Homo sapiens: one gene and its partners. The protein of the gene in region 1 interacts with the protein of each later gene in a pairwise test. Each region holds a gene or a part of one and is shown on either strand. Other genes may lie near its edges. The genes, in order: KLC1, ODAD1 and ATCAY.

The links.
Region 2: the proteins of KLC1 (region 1) and ODAD1 interact in binary tests that used the Homo sapiens proteins (3 or more experiments, as listed by UniProt).
Region 3: the proteins of KLC1 (region 1) and ATCAY interact in binary tests that used the Homo sapiens proteins (3 or more experiments, as listed by UniProt).

Annotation. Positions count from the first base shown.
Region 1 is NC_000014.9:103,667,144-103,674,251, reverse strand, and holds part of KLC1 (kinesin light chain 1), read right to left. Parts: intron 4,742-7,108; coding exon 4,654-4,741; intron 4,071-4,653; coding exon 3,969-4,070; intron 1,239-3,968; coding exon 1,065-1,238; intron 921-1,064; coding exon 821-920; intron 1-820. UniProt on the Homo sapiens protein: Kinesin is a microtubule-associated force-producing protein that may play a role in organelle transport. The light chain may function in coupling of cargo to the heavy chain or in the modulation of its ATPase activity.
Region 2 is NC_000019.10:48,297,972-48,305,079, reverse strand, and holds part of ODAD1 (outer dynein arm-docking complex subunit 1), read left to right. Parts: intron 1-939; coding exon 940-1,127; intron 1,128-1,295; coding exon 1,296-1,430; intron 1,431-1,984; coding exon 1,985-2,067; intron 2,068-2,217; coding exon 2,218-2,386; intron 2,387-6,739; coding exon 6,740-6,903; intron 6,904-6,982; coding exon 6,983-7,080; intron 7,081-7,108. UniProt on the Homo sapiens protein: Component of the outer dynein arm-docking complex (ODA-DC) that mediates outer dynein arms (ODA) binding onto the doublet microtubule. Involved in mediating assembly of both ODAs and their axonemal docking complex onto ciliary microtubules.
Region 3 is NC_000019.10:3,904,657-3,911,764, forward strand, and holds part of ATCAY (caytaxin), read left to right. Parts: intron 1-777; coding exon 778-999; intron 1,000-3,077; coding exon 3,078-3,263; intron 3,264-3,611; coding exon 3,612-3,714; intron 3,715-4,829; coding exon 4,830-4,961; intron 4,962-6,146; coding exon 6,147-6,233; intron 6,234-7,108.

The DNA of each region.
Region 1 (7,108 bases):
AAAATAAGCAGTATACATGATGATATGGACGGTATGGTTTGAAATCTGTAAACCAAAGGCACAGAAGGAAGGAAAGACATTAAAAATGTGAAAAGATGAATTTGGGTGATTCTCCTGTTTCCATTTCTGCATGAATTGGGTAGGTCTCTGCAATGAGGACATGAAGATGGATTTGGGTGATGCTCCTGTCTCCATTTCTGCGTGAACTGTATAGGTCTCTGCAATGAGGACATGTTATGGGCTCTGGGCACTGTAATCCCAGTCTAACTGCTTCTCAGCTACGGGGCCTCACACAAGTCACTTAGTCTGTGGTGTCTTTTTTTTTTTTTGAGACAGAGTCTCACTCTGTTGCCCAGGCTGGAGTGCAGTGGCACGATCTCGGCTCACTGCAAGATCCGCCTCCCGGGTTCACGCCATTCTCCTGCCTTAGCCTCCCGAGTAGCTGGGACTACAGGCGGCCGCCATCACACCCGGCTAAGTTTTTGTATTTTTAGTAGAGACGGGGTTTCACTGTGTTAGCCAGGATGGTCTCGATCGCCTGACCTCGTGATCCACCCACCTCGGCCTCCCAAAGTGCTGGAATTACAGGCGTGAGCCACCACGCCCGGCCTGTGGTATCCTTGCTTTTAAAATGGGGTAATGTTTGACCCGCTGCACAAGACTGCTGTGAAAGTGAAGTGAAATCACACATTTAAACTATTTAGCTTAGTGATGTACAAAGTTAAGTGCTTAATAAACAGTAACTAATACTATTAGTATATTACTATTAGTCAAGTCATTATACAATTAAATTCACTTGAAACGGGAGTATATTTCTTACCATCTACAGAACCAAACTCCCTTTCATGTGCACGAGTGAGAATCTCTTTGTACAGTGTTTCTGCTTGCTTGAACTTTCCTTGTTTCAAATAGCAGGATGCCTTAAAATAAAATAAAATAAAATATTTCATATCTTTCAGATGTAAATAAAGCATACATTTTAATCTCCAGTTAAATGAGAAAGTGTTTGGACTTGGGACGAAAGCACTCCTGGCCCCCTCCCTAGTGCTGTGCAGTCAACACACCAGGTTATTTTTCGTCTTAGCCACGTTGGGGTCATCAGGTCCCAGTTTTGTCTGGTAGATCTCGAGGGCTCTTTGATAATAATATTCTACTTCTTCATACTTGCCCTGGTTCTGGCACAGTAAGGCCAAGTTATTTAACTGCTTGGCAACATCGGGGTGATCCTTCCCCAAAACCTGAAAATAAAAAACAGCATATTAGAGACACTTGTTCTGCTTCCATCCAATCCATTCTCCACCCTACTGTCACATCAGGATCTTCCTCAACATAAGCACGACTGTGCTACACTTTCAGATTTAAATCCTTAACTGGCTCGCTACACCACGTAGTAATAAAATAACCAGAATTTCTCAAATTCTTATTCATGAGGGGAGGGAGGGAACTGTGCTCATCTTCTTTAGCTGTGTTAATTACTGTAGTAATCCTTCATGGTAGTTATATTTTTGTACATTGGTTGTACTATGTACAAATGTACACATTAGGCACATTTTGAAGATAAGGAAATGGGCTTTGTAAAGGCTATGTGAGTTTTACTGCCAGCTTCTGAAGAGCCCACAGCTGTCCCAGTTGCCCAGGATGCTCTTCTCCTAGCCCTCCCTACTAGCTACGACTTATCCTTCAGGGTTCTCCTCAGTTCCCCTCAAAGGAGACTTCCCTATACCACCCCACCTCACCTAGTGAACTCACAGGCACATCACCTGGTTGTTCTTTATAAGAATCACTTCTCTAAACTACCTTGAATATTTTTTATTACAATGTAAGCCCCAAGAGTATAAATTCTTTGTCTCTCTTCTTCACCAATGTAATCTCCGCATCGAAAAAGGGGTCTGGCACAGAGATAGATGAATGAACACTAACCTCCTCCCTCAGTACCTTGAACAAGTGATGAGTTCTCTCCGCTTTGTGCCTTTACACATGTGGTCCTCAGGGAGGTAAGCTGCCTTTCTACTCCCTTCTGCATTCCCTACCTCCCCCTGCCTAGGACACTTTTAACTCAATTATTCAAGATGCAGTTCCAACACCGACCTTCCCTGAGAAACCATCCCCAACACCCCCTGGCTCTGGCCCGCAGAAGCCCACACTTCATATCCTCCCAGAGCTCTCTATTCTAGATGCTGATGTGCCCTCTGCGGTCCTCAGTCTGTCCAGTGGACTGTGTCCTAGTGGGAGGAACTACATGTCTGATCTGTAAATCACCAACTCTAAGCAGGGGGCTCTAAATGAATGAAAGGGTAAATATATGAATGAATTTGGCAGGTCATCTTATATGGTTCCTAATCCTTAATTTGATACTTTTGTGCTCTCCCTGACTTTAACTCCAGCCCACCCCAAATTCAACCATTCTATTTCAGAAATATCATGCAGATTGACAGCATGATAAAATATTACCTGTATAATTTGATAAGGAGCCCCTTTTTATTTTCTCTCCCCCAATTCCTTGCCATGTGGCTCAAAATTAACTGATAAGAATCACTGATAAATAATCACAAAAAATACCAGGTTAAAATACCATTTGTGCGGCTGGGTGCAGTGGCTCATGCCTGTAATCCTAGCACTGTGGGAGGCTAAGGCAGATGGATCACCTAAGGTCAGGAGTTCTTGGCCAGCCTGGCCAACATGGTGAAACCCCATCTCTACTAAAAAATACAAAAATTAGCCGGGTGTTGTGGCACATGCCTGTAATCCCAGCTACCCAGGAGGCTGAGGCAAGAGAATTCCTGGAATCCAGGAGGCGAAGGCTGCAGTGAGCCGAGATCGTGCCACTGCACTCCAGCCTGGGCGACACAGCAAGACTCCGTTTCAGAAAAAAAAAAACACAATTTGTGGTCACTCATCGGATAGACCCAATACCCGAATCTTCATAACATCTAAAGAGATTGTCATACACAGCACTGCTGAAATGAACAAGTTGTTATATTTTTTAATACCTAATTACCATGAACTGTAGCAGCTGGTATTAAATATATATGACATTGACTTAATCTATAGCTCTGAGTTAATCTTTAGTTATAATAATAATTATTTCATTTTTCAGCTTCATAAAGCATATTTGGTGAATTTATCTTTAATCATGTTTTTCTTATTGACAAGCACATGTTCCACTGTCAAATGCAATGCTCCCAGGCTTTCCATCTCTAGTCCTCAGACATGTCTTCTTCAATCAGAGTCACTTCTAGGCCATATCAGGCTTGGACAGCATCAGACTCAGGACTGCACCTTTCTAAATGCACACGCCTCATAACTGGACCTTCTTTTCTTTTTTTTTTCTTTAGAGACGAGGTCTCACTATGTTACCCAGGCTGGTCTTAAACTTCCTAGGCTCAAGTGATCCTCCCACCTTGGCCTCCCAAAGTGCTGGGATTACAAGCATGAGCCACTGCACCCAGCCTGTAATTGAGTCTTAAACACTGATTTGTATGGGCCAATCTGGCTTTGTTTTGTGGGCTATTCTCTAATTAAATGAGTTGTTTTCAGCTAATAGTCAGTTAAAAACACATCACAGTGGTTATTTCTCAAAACCTAAAACCGAAAAATTTTTAAAAACACAAAAAACAGCGCCGGGCACAGTGGCTCAGCCTGTAATCCCAGCACTTTGGGAGGCCAAGGCGGGCGGATCAGGAGGTCAAGAGATTGAGAACATCCTGGCCAACATGGTGAAACCCCATCTCTACTACAAATACAAAAATTAGGTGGACGTGGTGGTGTGTCCCTGTAGTCCCAGCTACTTGGAAGGCCGAGGCAGAAGAATCACCTGAACCATGGAGGTGGGGGTTGCAGTGAGCCGAGATCACGCCACCGCACTCCAGCCCGGTGACAGAACGAGACTCCATCTCAAAAAAAAAAAAAAAACCACACACACACAAAACAAAAATCTCAAAGAAAACGACTGCCCCCTTCTTTTGTACCTTTTCTCGGATTTCCAGAGCTCTTTTACACAACGGCTCTGCTTCTTTGTACTTCCCTCTTTTACCATAAAGGACTGCAAGGTTATTCAAAGTCGCCGCCACCTGTCAACACAGAGAGAACCACTAAGAATGGTAAAAGATAACCAAATAAGAGTACATTTATACACCACATATTCATTTATATTCAATCTATACAGTAAAGCATTCTTAGTCGGATAGAACAATATGACTTCAGTTAAAATGAAAAGCGCAATTCACTAGAGTATAGATTATACAAAGTAACACTGCAGAATACTAAAATTAAACAAATCAACAACGTATTCCTGACTTTTTAAAAATTTCCCTGGAAGCCACAAAGCCAACCAAAACAGATTCATATGCAAATCTGACCAGATTTTAATGAAGACAATATAATTTTCAGAAAAAAATTTCTAGAAGGACATGCAATTTGATTTACAATCAAACAATACAGTTGGTGATCCATTTGAGGTGGGGTCATAAACAAATTAAGTGTGCTCTGGCCTGTCACTAGCACTGAGTAAGTGAAGACCTCCTACCTGCACCATCTAGGGAAAAGGCAGCACTTAAACTTTCCCTGTTGAGTTTAATGGTAAAATGAGTTGGATAAAAGAAATATATGGGGAAAATAAAATATTAAAAGAATGAAAGAACTGGATATACAAACCGCAGGATGATCTTTGCCCAAAGTTTTCTCACGAATAGCCAAGGCATCATTCAGTAGGTTAGCTGCATCTTTGTATTTATTCTGATCCCTAAATGGAAAAACACACATTAAGTGTTTCAGATGTAGATCACTACAGCTTTTCTTTTCTTTTCTTTTCTTTTTTTTTAGACAGAGTCTGACTCTGTTGCACAGGTTGGAGTGCAGTGGTGCCATCTTGGCTCACTGCAACCTCCGCCTCACGGGTTCAAGCAATTCTCTGCCTCAGCCTCCTGAGTAGCTGGGATTACAGGCATCTGTCACCACGCCCGGCTAATTTTTGTATTTTTAGTAGAGACGGGATTTCACCATGTTGGCCAGGGTGGTCTCAAACTCCTGACCTCATGATCCACCCGCCTAGGCCTCCCAAAGTGCTGGGGTTACAGGCATGAGCCATCGTGCCCGGCCTCACTACAGCTTTTTTAAATGTAATTTTCAACTACAGAAATAAAAGTTAAGCTTAAACTATTTAAGAAAAACCACAGGGCCGGGTGCAGTGGCTCATGCCTGTAATCTCAGCACTTTGGGAGGCTGAGGCGGGCAGATCACGAGGTCAGGAGATCGAGACCATCCTGGCTAACATGGTGAAACCCCATCGCTACTAAAAATACAAAAAAATTAGCCGGGTGTGGTAGCAGGCGGCTTTAGTCCCAGCTACTCGGGAGGCTGAGGCAGGAGAATGGCGTGAACCTGGGAGGTGGAGCTTGCAGTGAGCAGAGATCGTGCCACTGCACTCCAGCCTAGGCGACAGAGTGAGACTGTCTCAAAAAATAAATAAATAAAAAGATGGGTGTGGTGGCTCACGCCTGTAATCCCAACACTTTGGGAGGCTGAGGCGGGCGGATCACGAGGTCAGAAGATCGAGACCATCCTTGCTAACACAGTGAAACCCTGTCTCTACTAAAAATACAAAAAAAAATAGCCGGGCATGGCAGCATGCGCCTGTTGTCCCAGCTGCTGGGGACGCTAAGGCAGGAGAATGATGTGAACCCGGGAGGCGGAGCTTGCAGTGAGCATAGATCGCGCCACTGCACTAAAGCCTGGGTGACAGAGCAAGACTCCGTCTCAAAAGAAAAAAAAAAGAAAAAAGAAAAACCACAAGCTTATGGATGGGGAAAAAACACTGGAAGGAAATCCACCAATAAATGGACTGGCAAGGTGAACTCTGGAATCAGACCCAACTAGCTTCTGAACTTAACCTTCCCATCTAGGCCACTGGGAAGATAATGTCCCCACACTACAGTGTTGTCCTGCCTATGCCAGCTGGCCAGCACAGAATAAGTGCAACAGTCTAGAACAATGGACCAAGCTTGCATTTGGTTTCAGACAGAATTAATTCTAGTGTCTGAGCTTGGGCTCTACCAGTTAATGGCTACATGGCTTTGGGTGCATTACGTGACCTCACGCAGTCCCAGCCTTCCCATCTACAAAGCAAGTATATGATCTATTGCACAGTCTTGCTGTAAGAAGATGATATGCTACATGTATACTGAAAAAATATTTTAAAAAACAACAAACAAAAGTAAATATATTGTTGTGTCTGAACTTGGTACCCAGTCTCCCTCCATTTTGTTGAGTATGGAGGAACGAAGAATCTTTCTTGATTGGAGTAAAACAGAAACACCCCAGAACCAGAAACTCTCAGTTTAAGCGTGCTACTCACTACTGATGTGACTGAGAACAAGTACTTGCTTTTGAGACTTAGCACACATCTTTCTCAATTGAGTAGTAGTAACTGCCTGGCAAGGCTTTCCCCTGAAAAACGTGAGAAAGGTTAATAAGGCTTCTACAACCTCTGAAGCACACTAATTCTGGCCACGTATTAATATATTGTTGTTTCTTCTTTCATCCTATTACATCCTATTGTAAGCTGCCTCAAACTTTTTGTGAAAGTCAGCAAGTACAAAATAGAGTTCCAAAAAGTAGTGGCCAGGTGCGGTGGCTCACACCTGCAATCCTAGCACTTTGGGAGGCTGAGGCGGGCAGACTGCCTGAGCTCAGGAGTTCAAGACAAGCCTGGGCAACACAGTGAAACCCCATCTCTACTAAAATACAAAAAATTAGCCAGGCCTGGCGACATGCACCTGTAGTCCCAGCTACTCGGGAGGCTGAGGCAGGAGAATTGTAGCAAATGCAATTTAAAAATAAGCTACCAAGGCTGGGCACGGTGGCTCACGCCTGTAATCCCAGCACTCTGGGAGGCTGAGGCGGGTAGATCACCCGAGGTCAGGAGTTCAAGATCAACCAACATAGCAAGACCCTGTCTCTACTAAAAATACAAAAATTAGCTGGGTGTGGTGGCAGGCACCTGTAATCCCAGCTACTCGGGAGCCTGAGGCAGAAGAATCGCTTGAACCCAGGAGGCAGAGGTTGCAGTGAGCTGAGATTGTGCCATTGCACTCCAGCCTGGCCAACAAGA
Region 2 (7,108 bases), on another chromosome or scaffold:
AGCTGTGGCCTGGGTCGGCCTTAGGGTCTCTGTGATTTCTCTCTTTCTCTCTCTCTGTTAAAACAAACGTGGCAAAATTCACCATTTTAAAGCGTAGAATGTAGCAGCATTTAGTACATTCACGGGGCCGTGCAACCGCACCACTTCTGTCTAGATCTGAAATATTTCCATCACTCCAAAAGGAAAACTACCTGCCACCGGGAAGTACAGGAATCCTCGCTTTTTAGTCTTACTTGGGAGAAAGAATTCTGCCAAGAGACTGATTTAGCCAACAAAGAGAATTTACTGAAGGCAAATAGAGAACAGAGAGTTTACCTAGAGAGAGACAGTACACTCTGAAGGATGAGGAGAGCAGGCTGCTGAAAGAACGTGAGCCAGCAGCACACCGAGAGTTTTGTGTTGTGTTTCTAATATGATGTCGCACTCTTTTGAAGTTCTTGCTTCTGTCTTTTTTTTTTTTTTGAGACAGTTTCGCTCTTGCCACCCAGGCTGGAGTGCAGTGGTGCGATCTCAGCTCACTGCAATCTTCACCTCCCAGGTTCAAGCGATTCTCTTGCCTCAGCCTCCCAAGTAGTTGGGATTACAGGCATGCACCACCAGGTCTGGCTAATTTTTGTATTTTTAGTAGAGATGGAGTTTCACCATGTTGGCCAGGCTGGTTTCAAACTCCTGACTGCAGGTGATCCTCCTGCCTCCCAAAGTGCTGGGATTACAGCCTGAGCCACCGTGCCCAGCCAGTTCTCTGCTTTTTGTGACCACAGGATAACTGCAACCTGATTCAGCCCCATTCCTGTGACCCCAGGCTGGCCCTGCCCATCTGGGACACCAGCTGACTCCACCTCACCCCCCACAACCTCTGGCTGACCCCGCCCATCCCCAGGACCCCAGGCCGACCCCAGTCCAGCCTCCAGTCATCCTGACCCCGGCTGACCCCCGCAGGGAGGAGGCGAAGGCCAAGATGGGCTTGCTGCGGGAGCGCGCGGAGAAAGAGGAGGCCCAGAGCGAGATGGAGGCGCAGGTCCTGCAGCGGCAGATCTTGCACCTGGAGCAGCTGCACCACTTCCTCAAGCTCAAGAACAACGACCGGCAGCCGGATCCCGATGTCCTGGAGAAGCGTGAAAAGCAGGGTGAGGCTGGGGCTGCTGCCTTTGCATCTCAAGGGCCTGGCCGCCCCTGGGGCACCTGCAGCACACCTTCGTGCCCCAGGTGGGACCACACTTCGCTCCCCCTCACCCAGGAGGTCTCTGTGTTGGAGGCCACCCAGGAGGCCGACCTGCTGTTCTCTCTTCCCCTAGCCGGGGAGGTGGCCGAGGGCGTCTGGAAGACCTCCCAGGAGAGGCTGGTGCTTTGCTACGAGGACGCCCTGAATAAACTGTCCCAGCTGATGGGGGAGAGTGACCCTGACCTGTTGGTGCAGAAGTATCTGGAGAGTGAGTGGGGCCCTGGGTGGAGGGAGGAGGCCCGGGACCCCGGCACCCCCTGAGTCCAGTGCAGGCTGGCCTCAGCTCTGGCCCTGGGGAACTCCTCCATCTGTGCTGGAGGAACAAGGCGTCATGCCTGGGACCCGCCGCCCGCGTCCACTGGCGTCTTACCGTGGCCCTGTCTCTGCCCCTCCCCACCCCCTCCTAACTCCTGGGCCTGGGGTCACTCTCCACATCCTTCCCTCAACCCTGTCCCTCTCTGTTTCTCTCCTTACCCATATCTACCGTTCTCCCCGCCTGCATCTCCCCATCTCCCTTGCTATTGCCGAGTCTCTGGCTTTCCCTCTCTGCCTTGCTGTGTATTTCTGTGTCCCACCTGCCGTATCTTCCCACACCTCTTTGTCTCTGTGACTCCTCTCTGTTCGTCTCTCTGCCTTGGTTTCTGTGTGGCCTTCCTCATCTTCACTTTCTTTGGCCTTCTGTATGCCTCTCTGTCTCTGTTCTCTCTGTCTCTGTTTCTCTGTCTCCCTCTCTCTGGGCCCCGCCTTGCCCAACTCTCCCAGTCGAGGAGCGCAACTTTGCTGAGTTCAACTTCATCAACGAGCAGAACTTGGAGCTGGAGCATGTGCAGGAAGAGATCAAGGAGGTGAGTGAGGCCTGCCCTCTCCATCTCCTCCTCTCCTCCCGGCCTCCCCGCCCCCTTCCCTCCCTCAGCCTGCCTCCTGCTTCTTCCTAGCTCCACACCCCCAACTCCCGAGGCTGCCATCTGGCCCAGCATTCAGCCCTGTCCCCACAGATGCAGGAGGCTTTGGTGAGCGCACGTGCCAGCAAGGATGACCAGCATTTGCTGCAGGAGCAGCAGCAGAAGGTGTTGCAGCAGCGCATGGACAAGGTGCACTCGGAGGCTGAGCGCCTTGAGGCCCGCTTCCAGGATGTGCGGGGACAGCTGGAGAAGCTCAAGGCTGGTGAGCACCCATGGGCGCCCCCTCCCGAGCCTGGCTTCTCCACTTGGAAGGACACCATCAGCCCGCGGGGCTTGGAGGCATTGCATGGACAACCTGGTTCACTTGCTTATCAGTTGCCCCATATCTGTCCATCTTTCCAACCAGGGTCTATCCCTCCAACTGTCCCATGTCCATCTATCCATCCATCATCTGTCCCTCCAACTGTCCTACACCCATCCATCCATCCATCTATCAATGCATCCATCCATCCATCTAGGGTTGATCCCTCCAACTGTCCCATATCCATCCATCCATCCATCCATCCATCCATCCATCCATCCATCCATTCAACGTCTGTCTCTCCAATTATCCTATATCCATCCATCCATTCAGAGTCTATCCCTTCAACTGTCCTATATCCATCATCCATTCAGGATCTATTCCTTCATCTGTCCTATATCTATCTCTCCATCCAGGGTCTATCCCTCCATTCTGTCCCATATCCATCTATCTATCCAGGGTCTGTTCCTTCATCTGTTCTATATCTATCTACCCATCCAGGACCTACCCCTCCATCTGTCCTATATCCATCCATCCATTCATCCATCCATCCATCCATTCATCCACCCATCCATCCATCCATCCAGGGTCTATTCCTCCAACTGTCCTGTATCCATCATTCATCCAGGATCTATTCCTTCATCTGTCCTATATCTATCTCTCCATCCAGGTTCTATACCTCCATCTGTCCCATATCCATCTATCTATCCAGGGTCTATTCCTTCATCTGTCCCATATCTATCCATCCAGGATCTACCCCTTCATCTGTCCTATATCCATCTGTCCGTATATCCATCCATCCATCCATCCATCCATCCATCCATCCATCCATCCATCCAGGATCTATTCCTCCAACTGTCCCATGTCCATCCATCCATGCAGGGTCTATCCCTCCAACTGTCCCATGTCCATCCATCCATCCAGGGTCTATCCCTCCATCTGTCCCATGTCCATCAATCCATCCATTGTCTATCTGTCCATCTGCCTCCAACAGCCCCACATCCATCTGTTCATCCATCTATCTGCAATGACATTTGACTTTTGTCTTCCTAGTCTTAGTCTTAGTTACCAAATTTCTTCTTAGTCTTAGTTACCAAATTTCTTCTTAGTCTTAGTTACCAAAAATGTTATTATTTGTAAAGAAAATGATGATAAAATATAATAGCAATGTTTATTATGTGTCATTCACTGTGCAAGGCACTTATGCATTATTCCACTTGTTTCACAAAACACTAAAAAACAGATGCTGTCCCTCCAACTGTCCCATATCCATCATCCACCCATCCATCCATCTACCCAGTATTCATCCATGGATCATCCATGTACATCTCTGTCTATAAATGCCTAGCAGTGGGACCGATGGGTCTTAGGGTAGGTATATGTTGATATTTATTAGAAAATGCCGAACAGTTTTCCACACTGGTCGCAAGATTTTATGCTCTCACCTATGCGAGCATATGGGAGTCCCCGATGATCCACACCTTTTCCACCACTTCCTAGTGTCAGCCATTTTTTATCTTGTTTTGTTTTTGAGATGCAGTCTTGCTCTGTCACCAGGCTGGAGTGCAATGGCATGATCTCGGCTCACTGCAACCTCCGCTTCCTGGGTTCAAGCGATTCTCCTGCCTCAGCCTCTCCAGTAGCTGGGACTACAGGTGTGCGCCACCACGCCCAGCTAATTTTTGTATTTTTAGTAGAGTCGGGGTTTCATCACGTTGGCTAGGATGGTCTCGATCTCTTGACCTCGTGATCTGCCCGCCTCGGCCTCCCAAAGTGCTGGGATTACAGGCGTGAGCCCCCGTGCCTGGCCGTCAGCCATTTTAATATTAGCCATCTAACGTGTGTGCCGTACTCTCTCTATTAATTTAATTGGCATTTCCCTGGTGACTAATAATATTGAGCATCGTATTGGCCATTCAGATGTTTTTGTAAAGTTCCTGTTCAATCTTGTGCACTTGTTTTTTTAAAAATTGGGTTTGTCTTGCTATAACTGAGTTGAAGGAGTTCTTTGTATATTCTAGATACTAGACTTTTGGTAAATATTTTCTCTTATACTGTAGCTTGCCTTTTCATTTTTTTTGGTGATGAACTGAAGTTTCTTAGTTTTGAGGATATCTAATTTATGAAATTTTCTTTTTGTAGTTAATGACTTTGTGGCCTGCCTAAGAAATTTTTGCCTGTCCTGAGGTTACAAAGGCATTATGCTGTGTTTTCTCCTAGAAGTTTCATTGTTTGAACTCCCACATTGAAGTCTGTGACTTATGACAAATTGATTTGCATTATGGTATGAGGTAGGGGTCTAGAGTTTCCTTTTTAAAAATTTTTTTAGATTTTTTTCATTTATTTATTTTTTGAGAGGAATTTCGCTCTTTTGCCCAGGCTGGAGTGCAGTGGCACAATCTCGGCTCACTGCAACCTCTGCCACCCAGGTTCAAGCAGTTCTGCCTCAGCCTCCTGAGTTGCTGGGATTACAGGTGCCCGCCACCACGCCCAACTAATTTTGGTATTTTTAGTAGAGACGGGGTTTCGCCATGTTGGCAGGCTGGTCTCAAACTCCTGACCTCAGGTGATCTGCCCGCCTCAGTATCCCAAAGTGCTGGGATTACATATGCATGAGCCACTGTGCCCGGCCCTTTTTTTTTTTAGAGATAGGATTTTACTATGTTGTCCAGGCTAGTCTTGAACTCCTGGACTCAAGTGATCCTCCTGTCTTGGACTCCCAAAGTGCTGGGATTATAGGCATGAGCCACCACTCCTGGCTGAGTTTCTTTTTTTTTTTTTTAATCCCTTCTGTGGGTATGTTGCATCCACCTGTGCATCCTTTTTTTCTATTATTATTATTATTTTTTAAAATTTGAGAAAGTCTCGCTCTGTTCCCCAGGTTGGAGTGCAGTGGCACGATCTCGGCTCACTGCAATCTCCCCCTCCTGGTTCAAGCGATTCTCCTGCCTCAGCCTCCCAGTAGCTGGGATTACAGGCACACACCACCACACCCAGCTAATTTTTGTATTTTTAGTGGAGGGGGGTTTTGCCATGTTGGTCAGGCTGGTCTCAAACTCCTGACTTGAGGTGATCCACCCGCCTTGGCTTCCCAAAGTGCTGGGATTACAGGTGTGAGCCACTGCGCCGGGCCTCATCTTTCTTATTTTTCAGGAAGTAGCCATGCAGAGCACTCAGGAGTCAGGCTGTCCTGTTTCTTTTCTCTTTTTTAAAACATTTATTGTTAGCTTTTATTTGTTTTTTTGAGATGGAATCTCACGCTGTCAGCCAGGCTGGAGAGCAGTGGTGTGATCTGGGCTTACTGCAACGTCCATCTCCCGGGTTCAAGCAATTCTCCTGCCTCAGCCTCTCCAGTAACTGGGATTACAGGCCTGCACTACCATGCCCGGCTAGTTTTTTTGTATTTTTAGTAGAGACAGGGTTTCACCATGGTGGCCAGGCTGGTCTCAAACTCCTGACCTCAAATGATCTGCCTGCCTTGGCTTCCCAAAGTGCTGGATTACAGGCGTGAGCCACTGCACCCAGCCTGTCCTGGGTTTGAATCTCAGCTCCACCAATTGTGAACCTTGGTGTGTGGCTTCCTCCTTCCGCTCTGGGAATGGGGATGGCAGTGCCTACTTTGCAGGGTTGTCATGAGAATTAGAAGGGATGACGGATGGAGAGAAAGGTGGGGGGTGGTGGGGAGCGAGCTGGAGAGCCTCCTCGGGGCATACCGTAGGAGCTCAGATATGGGCAGGTCCTCCTTCCTGCTGTCGTGATGGCTGATCCGAGCCCTGTGCTAGGTGATGTGGGCACAGTGGGGAGAGGCCCTGGAGGGGACTGACCTGCGCACTGGGCACTCATCACTCAGGGGCTAGGACAGAGGACGCCCAGGCACTGGGGGCGAGAGAAGGCCCTAACTCAGTCTGGGGTGCAAGACCATAATTTGTGGGGCCCAGTGCAGAATGAGGGGCCCCTTGTTAAAAAATTGCTGAGATTTTCAAGATAGGAAGAGCAGCAGCGTGTCAAGCCAAGTGCAGGCCCCTCACCACTGCCTGGATCTCACACTCATGAGGCTGGCTCTGCTGGGGTCACTGGGAAGGCTTCCTGGAGGCAGTGACACTTGAGGCTGACTTTGAAGGACAAGTCAGGGAGAGAGGGATGCACAGCAGTGCCGTCCCCCTGCCTGGCTGGCTGAGCTCGGGTGACTCCCTTTTGGTCTCTGAGCCTTGACCGCAGTCTCTGTAGAATGGGGCAGTGAGGACCTGAGTGGGGAGAGGGCTGGCACCCAGCTGGCGGTGCCAGATCCCTGACAACCGGCCCTCCATGACGCAGATATCCAGCTCCTCTTCACCAAGGCCCATTGCGACAGCAGCATGATCGATGACCTCCTTGGGGTCAAGACCAGCATGGGAGACCGGGACATGGGCCTCTTCCTGAGCCTCATTGAGAAGCGGCTGGTGGAGCTCCTGACAGTGCAGGCCTTCCTACATGCCCAGGTGGGAGACGGCAGGGAGCCGGGACAGGAGGCCGGTCTCGGGGGTGGCCCAGCTGACCGCAGGCTCCCACACTCTCCAGAGCTTCACCTCCCTGGCCGACGCTGCCCTCCTAGTGCTGGGCCAGAGCCTGGAGGACCTTCCGAAGAAGATGGCCCCACTTCAGCCCCCTGACACTCTGTGAGGCGCAGGGCAGGAGGGACGCAGA
Region 3 (7,108 bases), on another chromosome or scaffold:
CACGTCCTATTGGATTTGTTTCCCTGGAGCACTCTGATTAAAATAGGAGACTATCCTGGATCCTGTATTATCCAGGTGGCCTGACATCGTTACAGGATCCTCATGAGTGGAGACAGGAGGGTGAGAGTCAGAGAAAGCCTAGAAGAAGATGGGCTGCTTTCACAATTTGTCTGCACAAGAGATATGTCTCTTCTCCTTTATTTATTTATTTATTTATTTTTGAGATAGAGTTTCACTCTGTCACCCAGGCTGGAGTGCAATGGTACGATCTTGGCTCACTGTAACCTCCGCCTCCTGGGCTCAAGTGATTCTCCTGCCTCAGACTCCCAAGCAGCTGGGATTACAGGCGCCACCACTGTGCCCGGCTAATTTTTATATTTTTAGTAGAGATGGGGTTTCGCCATGTTGGCCAGGCTGGTCTCGAACTCCTGACCTCAGGTGATCTGCCCGCCTCGGCCTCCAAAGTGCTGGGATTACAGGCGTGAGCCACCGCACCCGGCCCAAAGTCAGGCTTTGAACTCATGTCTGCCCAATGTCCAAGCATCCATCCCCTTAATCTCTGAGGCTTGCCCACAGGACAGAGGTTATAACATTCACCCCTGTCAGGATGATGTCGGTTTAATTCTGCCCACCCCCGCCAATGGCATGGATACAGAAGGGAGCCCACCCTCTCTTCCCATTCCTGCATGATGAAACAGCTTCCACCAGGTAGGAAAATGGGGGGAAGGTAAAAGAGAGAAAGCAAAGATGTTTTCCATTTTTCTCATTTCCCTGCAGCTCCTCCCAACACGCTAAATTTCAACGGAGCGCATCGTAAGAGGAAGACGCTGGTGGCCCCAGAGATCAACATTTCTCTGGATCAGAGTGAGGGGTCCCTGCTGTCCGATGACTTCTTGGATACCCCTGATGACCTGGATATTAACGTGGATGACATCGAGACCCCCGATGAGACCGACTCGCTGGAGTTCCTGGGGAATGGCAACGAACTGGAGTGGGAAGGTAAAGTTCAGGGTCTCTCTGGGGCCTGCTGGAGCCCACCCCCCCCACCCCACCTTTCCGTCTCTGGATTCCCATAGGCTCAGAGAGTCACAAGTGGGGCAGGGGCTCTAAGCAGTCTAGCCTTAAACCCAGGAGATCAAGACTGCAGTGAGACGTGATCATGCCACTGCACTCCAGCCTGGACAACAGAGTGAGACCCTGTCTCAAAAATAAAATTTTTAAAAAAGAGAGAGGTGGCTGGGCGCAGTGGCTCATGCCTGTAATCCTAGCACTTTGGGAGGCCGAGGCGGGCAGATCACGAGGTCAGGAGATCGAGACCATCCTGGCTGACACAGTGAAACCCCGTCTCTACTAAAATACAAAAAATTAGCCAGGCATGGTGGCGGGCACCTGAAGTCCCAGCTACTCAGGAGGCTGAGGCAGGAGAACGGTGTGAACCCAGGAGGCCGAGCTTGCGGTGAGCCAAGATTGTGCCACTGCACTCCAGCCTGGGCGACAGAGCGAGACTCCGTCTCAAAAAAAAAAAAAAAGAGAGAGAGAGGTTGGTGAATGGGTACCAACATACAGTTAGACAGAAGGAATAAGTTCTATTGTTCGATAGCAGAATAGGAGGGGTGCCAGGAGGAGGGTCCATCCGCTCCTGCGACTGTTTTTTTTTTTTTTTTGAGACAGAGTCTCACTCTGTTGCCCAGGCTGGAGTGCAGTGGTGTGATCTCAGCTCACTGCATCCTCCACCTCCCGGGTTCAAGCGATTCTTTTGCCTCAGCCTCCCGAGTAGCTGGGATTACAGGCATGCACTACCACTTCCGGCTGATGTTTATATTTTTAGTAGAGATGGGGTTTTCCCATGTTGCCCAGGCTGGTCTCAAACTCCTGACTTCAAGTGATACACCCACCTCGGCCTCCCAAAGTGCTGGGATCACAGGTGTGAGCCACGGCGCCCAGCCTGCCCCTGCAATTTGATGCATATTTTTCTTGTGGGCTTGTGAATTTTTCTGCAGAACGTGGCTTTCATCAGAATCTCAAAGGCGACCAAGATCCCAACAAACTGCCCTCGATGTATGCAACAAATACTTTTTGACCATTTACTCCAGGGCAAGTCCTGATTCAGGCGTGGGGTATATGGCAGGGCTATGATAAGAAGAGATGGTCCTGGTCCCTACCTGCACACACAGATCATCAGAAAGACAGACCACGAAAGGCCAGGCGCAGTGACTCACGCCTGTAATCCCAGCACTTTGGGAGGCTGAGGTGGGCAGATCACCTGAGGTCAGGAGTTTGAGACCAGCCTGGCCAACATGGTGAAGCTCCATCTCTACTAAAAATACAGAAATTAGCCGGGCATGGTGGCGTGCGTAGTCCCAGCTACTCGGGAGGCTGAGGCAGGAGAATCGCTTGAACTCTGGAGGCAGAGGCTGCAGTGAGCAGAGATCGCACCACTCCACTCCAGCCTGGGCGATGGAACAAGACTCTCTCAAAAAAAAAAAAGAAAGAAAAAAAAAAATTAAGGACAATGTAGTGGCTCATTCCTGTAATCCCAGAGCTTCGGGAGGCCAGGGTAGGAGGATCGCTTAAGGCCAGGAGTTTGAGACCAGCCTGGGCAACATATTGAAACCCCATCTCTACAAAAATATAAAAATTAGCTGGGTGTGGTGGTGCACAACTGTAGTCCCAGGTATCTGGGAGGCTGAGGCAGGAGGACTGCTCTCTGTGTGCCAGGCTCCTGGGAGAGTAAAAACCAAGCATGCATGCCCCGAGTATCCTCGTGGTTTGATGAAGCAGATGCATTCACCAGCTCTGAGAAGCTCCAGGACACAGGTCCTTAACCAACAGAGTGCCCTGGGAGGCCAGCAAAGGGAATGTCCAGAAAGGCTTCCTGGAGGAGGCGGCATTTGAGCCAGGCCTTGAAAGGGGAGTAGGAGAGGAAAATGGGTCAGCAGGGCAGCCAGGTGGGGAGAAGCGAAGGACTTGTGGGTCCCGGCAGCGAGGGAGGTGGGAGAGGGGAAGGAAGGCTGAGCAGGAGGGCAGGAGATATCCGGACTCTGGCGTCCATGCGACTCTCCGCCACCTGCTTCTAGACGACACCCCCGTGGCCACCGCCAAGAACATGCCCGGGGACAGCGCGGATCTATTTGGGGACGGCACGACGGAGGACGGCAGCGCCGCCAACGGGCGCCTGTGGCGGACAGTGATCATCGGGGAGCAAGAGCACCGTATAGACCTGCACATGATCCGGCCTTACATGAAAGTGGTCACCCACGGAGGTGAGACCCGCCCCCCGGTGCCCCCTTGGGGCTCCAGCCCGGCCCACTGGGCAACAGGGGGTTCGTCAGTGCCCCTCTCTGATGCACGGGGATGTTAAGCCGTCAACTCGCTTCGGGTGGACGGACTGTGGGCAAGGCGTGCATGGTCAGGGAGGCGCACTGGGGGCCCCTGATGGTCGCTGTCACTCCTCAGCGAAGGCAGAGACTGGCTAAGGGGTCGCCGGCTGCTGTGGCTCGGAGCCATGCCCTCCCGAGCGTGTGGGCACCGGGACGTGGTGGGTGGTGCGCGGGAGGCAGCTCAGGGCTGGGAGAGGACTCTGACGTTGCCGATCGGCTGCCTCTCCTCAGGGTACTACGGCGAAGGCCTCAACGCCATCATCGTCTTCGCAGCCTGCTTCCTTCCAGACAGCAGCCTCCCCGACTACCACTACATCATGGAGAACCTCTTCCTGTGAGTCCCCGCCCGCGGCGAGCAGCCTCGGGCCAGCTCTGATGCCTCCCTGGCCACAGGGGCACCAGGCTGCAAGGATTGCATTGTGGCCCTAGGAAGCCTGCCTGGCACCAGGGAAGGGCGTGGTGGCCACAGACCTTGATCTGAGTCCCTGCTGGCCCTGAGGCTCACAGTGGCCTTCCCTCTGGGCCACCCTGTTCTCCTCCCCGTCCTCCTCCTCCTCCTCTTCCTCCTCCTTCCCCTCCTCCTCACTGTCCTCCTCCTCCTCCCCTTCTTCCTCCCCCTTCCCCTTTCTTCTCCTCCTTCTCCTCCCCTTCTTCCTCCCCCCTCCTCCTCCCTTTTCTCCTCCTCCTCCCCTTCCCTCTCCTCCTCCCCCTCTTCCCCTTCCCTCTCCTCCTCCCCCCTCTTCCTTCTCCTCCTCTTCCTCCCCTTTCTCCACCTCATCCTCTTTCTCTTCCTCCCCTTTCTCCCCCCTTCCTCCTCCTTCTCCTCCTTCCCTCATCTTCCTCTCCTTCCCTCTCCTCCCCCTCCCCATCCTCCTCCTCCCCATCCTCTTCCCCTTCCTCCTCCTCTTCCCGCTCTGAGATGGCACCACTGCACTCCAGCCTGGGTGACAGAGTGAGAACCTGTCTCAAAAAAAAAAAAAAAAAAAAAAAGCAAGGCCTAGAGACCAGCCTGGCCAACATAGTGAAATCCTGCCTCTACTAAAACTACAATTTAGCTGGGCTCGGTGGCAGGCGCCTGTAATCCCAGCTACTAGGGAGGCTGTGGCAGGAGAATGGCGTGAACCTGGGAGGCGGAGCTTGCAGTGAGCCGAGATCGCACCACTGCACTCTAGCCTGGGCAACAGAGCGAGATTCCGTCTCAAAAAAAAAAAACGACTCAATAAAAGAGTAACTGCCCTATGAGGATGCCCGCTGACACTCATGTGGAGTGTGCTGGGATCATCCACGTCCTCTCCCACCCTGCAGTCCGCCAGGACAGCAGACAACACCTGGACCAGTGGGGCTGACCCAGCCAGCGGCAGGAGTGGAGGCAGGCAGGGTCGGCACCGCAGGTGTCCTGACCCTGGACCCCTCCATGTTGGGTCCCTGCCTTCTGTGCCCCGTGAGCAGGTACGTCATCAGCAGCTTAGAGCTCCTGGTGGCTGAGGACTACATGATCGTGTACCTGAACGGTGCCACGCCCCGGCGGAGGATGCCTGGAATCGGCTGGCTGAAGAAGTGCTACCAGATGATCGACCGGAGGTGAGGTGGGGATGCCTCAGGAAGCACAGTGGGGGCATGAAAATCACACAGGGGGCTGGACATGGTGGCTCACACCTGGAATCCCAGCACTTCGGGAGGCTGAGGTGGGAAGGTCCCTTGAGCCCAGGAGTTTGAGACCAGCCTGGGCAACGCAGCAAGACGCTGTCTCTACAGAAAAACTTTTAGGCCGGGCAAGGGGGCTCACACCTCTAATCCCAGCACTTTGGGAGGCCAAGGTGGGTGGATCACCTGAGGTCAGGAGTTCAAGACCAGCCCGGCCAACATATAGTGAAACCCCATCTCTACTAAAAAAATTCAAAAATTAGCTGGGCGTGGTGGCGCATGCCTGTAGTCCCAGCTACTTGGGAAGCTGAGGCAGGAGAATCACTTGAACCCAGGAGGTGGAGGTTGCAGTGAGCCGAGATCATGCCACTGCACTTCAGCCTGGGCAACAGAGCGAGACTCTGTCCCCATGAAACACTCACTCCCTATTCCTTCTCCCCAGGCTCCGGCACCCCCCATCCTACTTTCTGTCTCTGTAAATCTGATGACTCTAGGGACCTCCTAGGACTGGAATCACACAGGATTTGTCCTTTTGTGTCTGGCTTTCCTCACTGAGTGTGATGTCCTCAGGGTGCATCCACATTGTAGCCTGTGTCAGAGCCTCCTTCCTTTTCATGGCTGCATAATATTCCACTGTATGGACATACCACATTTGGTTTGTCCATTCCATTCATCTCTTGATGGACATGGGTTGCTTCCACCCCTGAGTTATTGTAAATAGCCTCAGAGTGACATTAAAATTGAGCCAGCCAATCCATCCTTGCACCCAGGTTAGTGGAGGGAGGCTCCAAGGACAGGCTGGTCCCTCCTAGGGCATTAGGTGGTGAAAATACAATCTTGGCTGCTCAAATAACTACCAACCTGGTTCACCTGCTCTGCACCATGGGGTCTCTACCTACCTCATCCACCTGAGGGTCTTAGGGACTCAAAGGGTGTGTCTTTATCCCACCATAGGACCCCCATGTCTTGGATGGGGGCAGGGATTTGACAGGTACCTGGAGACCACACGTGGAATGAGCAGAGTGACGAATGCTTGCTTGTGGCTCTCCCGTCCCACCCAGCTCCTCCCTCCCCAGGGCTCGCCCCAGGAGCCCATCTTGCTTCCTTTGCGGCCCCACACAGGTTGCGGAAAAACCTGAAGTCCTTGATCATCGTCCACCCCTCGTGGTTCATTCGGACTGTGCTGGCCATCTCTCGCCCTTTCATCAGGTGAGACGGGGAGGCTGCAACCCAAGTCCAGTGGCCTCAGTGTGCGTGTGTGCGTGTGTGTATGCATGCATTTGTGTGTGCATGTGTGCACGTGTGTGCGTGTGTGCATCTGTGTGTGTGTGCATCCATGTGTGTGTTTGATGTGCATGTTCCAGCTTCTCTATGATGAATACATATTATTGCTTTAAACAGTTTTAAATTGCACACAGCCAGGCACAGTGGCTGACACCTGTAATCCCAGCTACTCAGAAGGCTGAGGTGGGAGGATCGTTTGAGGCCAGCCTGAGCAACATAGCAAAACCCCCATCTCTACAAAAAATACAAAAATTAGCAGGACGTGGTGGTGCACACCTGTAGTTTCAGCTACTTGGGAGGCTCACGTGGGAGGATGGCTTGAGCCCAGGAGATCAAGGCTGCAATGAGCCGTGATCGAGCCACTGTACTCCAGCCTGGATGACAGAGTGAGACCCTGTCTCAAAAGAAAATCAGTCATGCATGGCATCACATGCCTGTAGTCCCAGCTACTCAGGAGGCTGAGGCAGGAGGATCACTTGAGCCCAGGAGGTAGAGGCTGCAGTGAGCTATGATCACTCCACTGCACTCCAGCCTGGGAGACAGAGCAAAACAACCCTGTCTCTAAAAATAAAATATATATATATGTATGTATAAATAAATAAATAATATGACTAATAAATTTAAAATTTAAAACTACATATATTCTATAATGTATATCATATATAGTTACTATATTAAACATATAGTAAAACAGATCAAGTGAAATAAAATTAGGCATGTTAAATGCCCTATTCAATCCAATAAAATGTCATGCAAATTTAATTTAATCTAATGCAAAACATTGAATTGAATAAAGATTC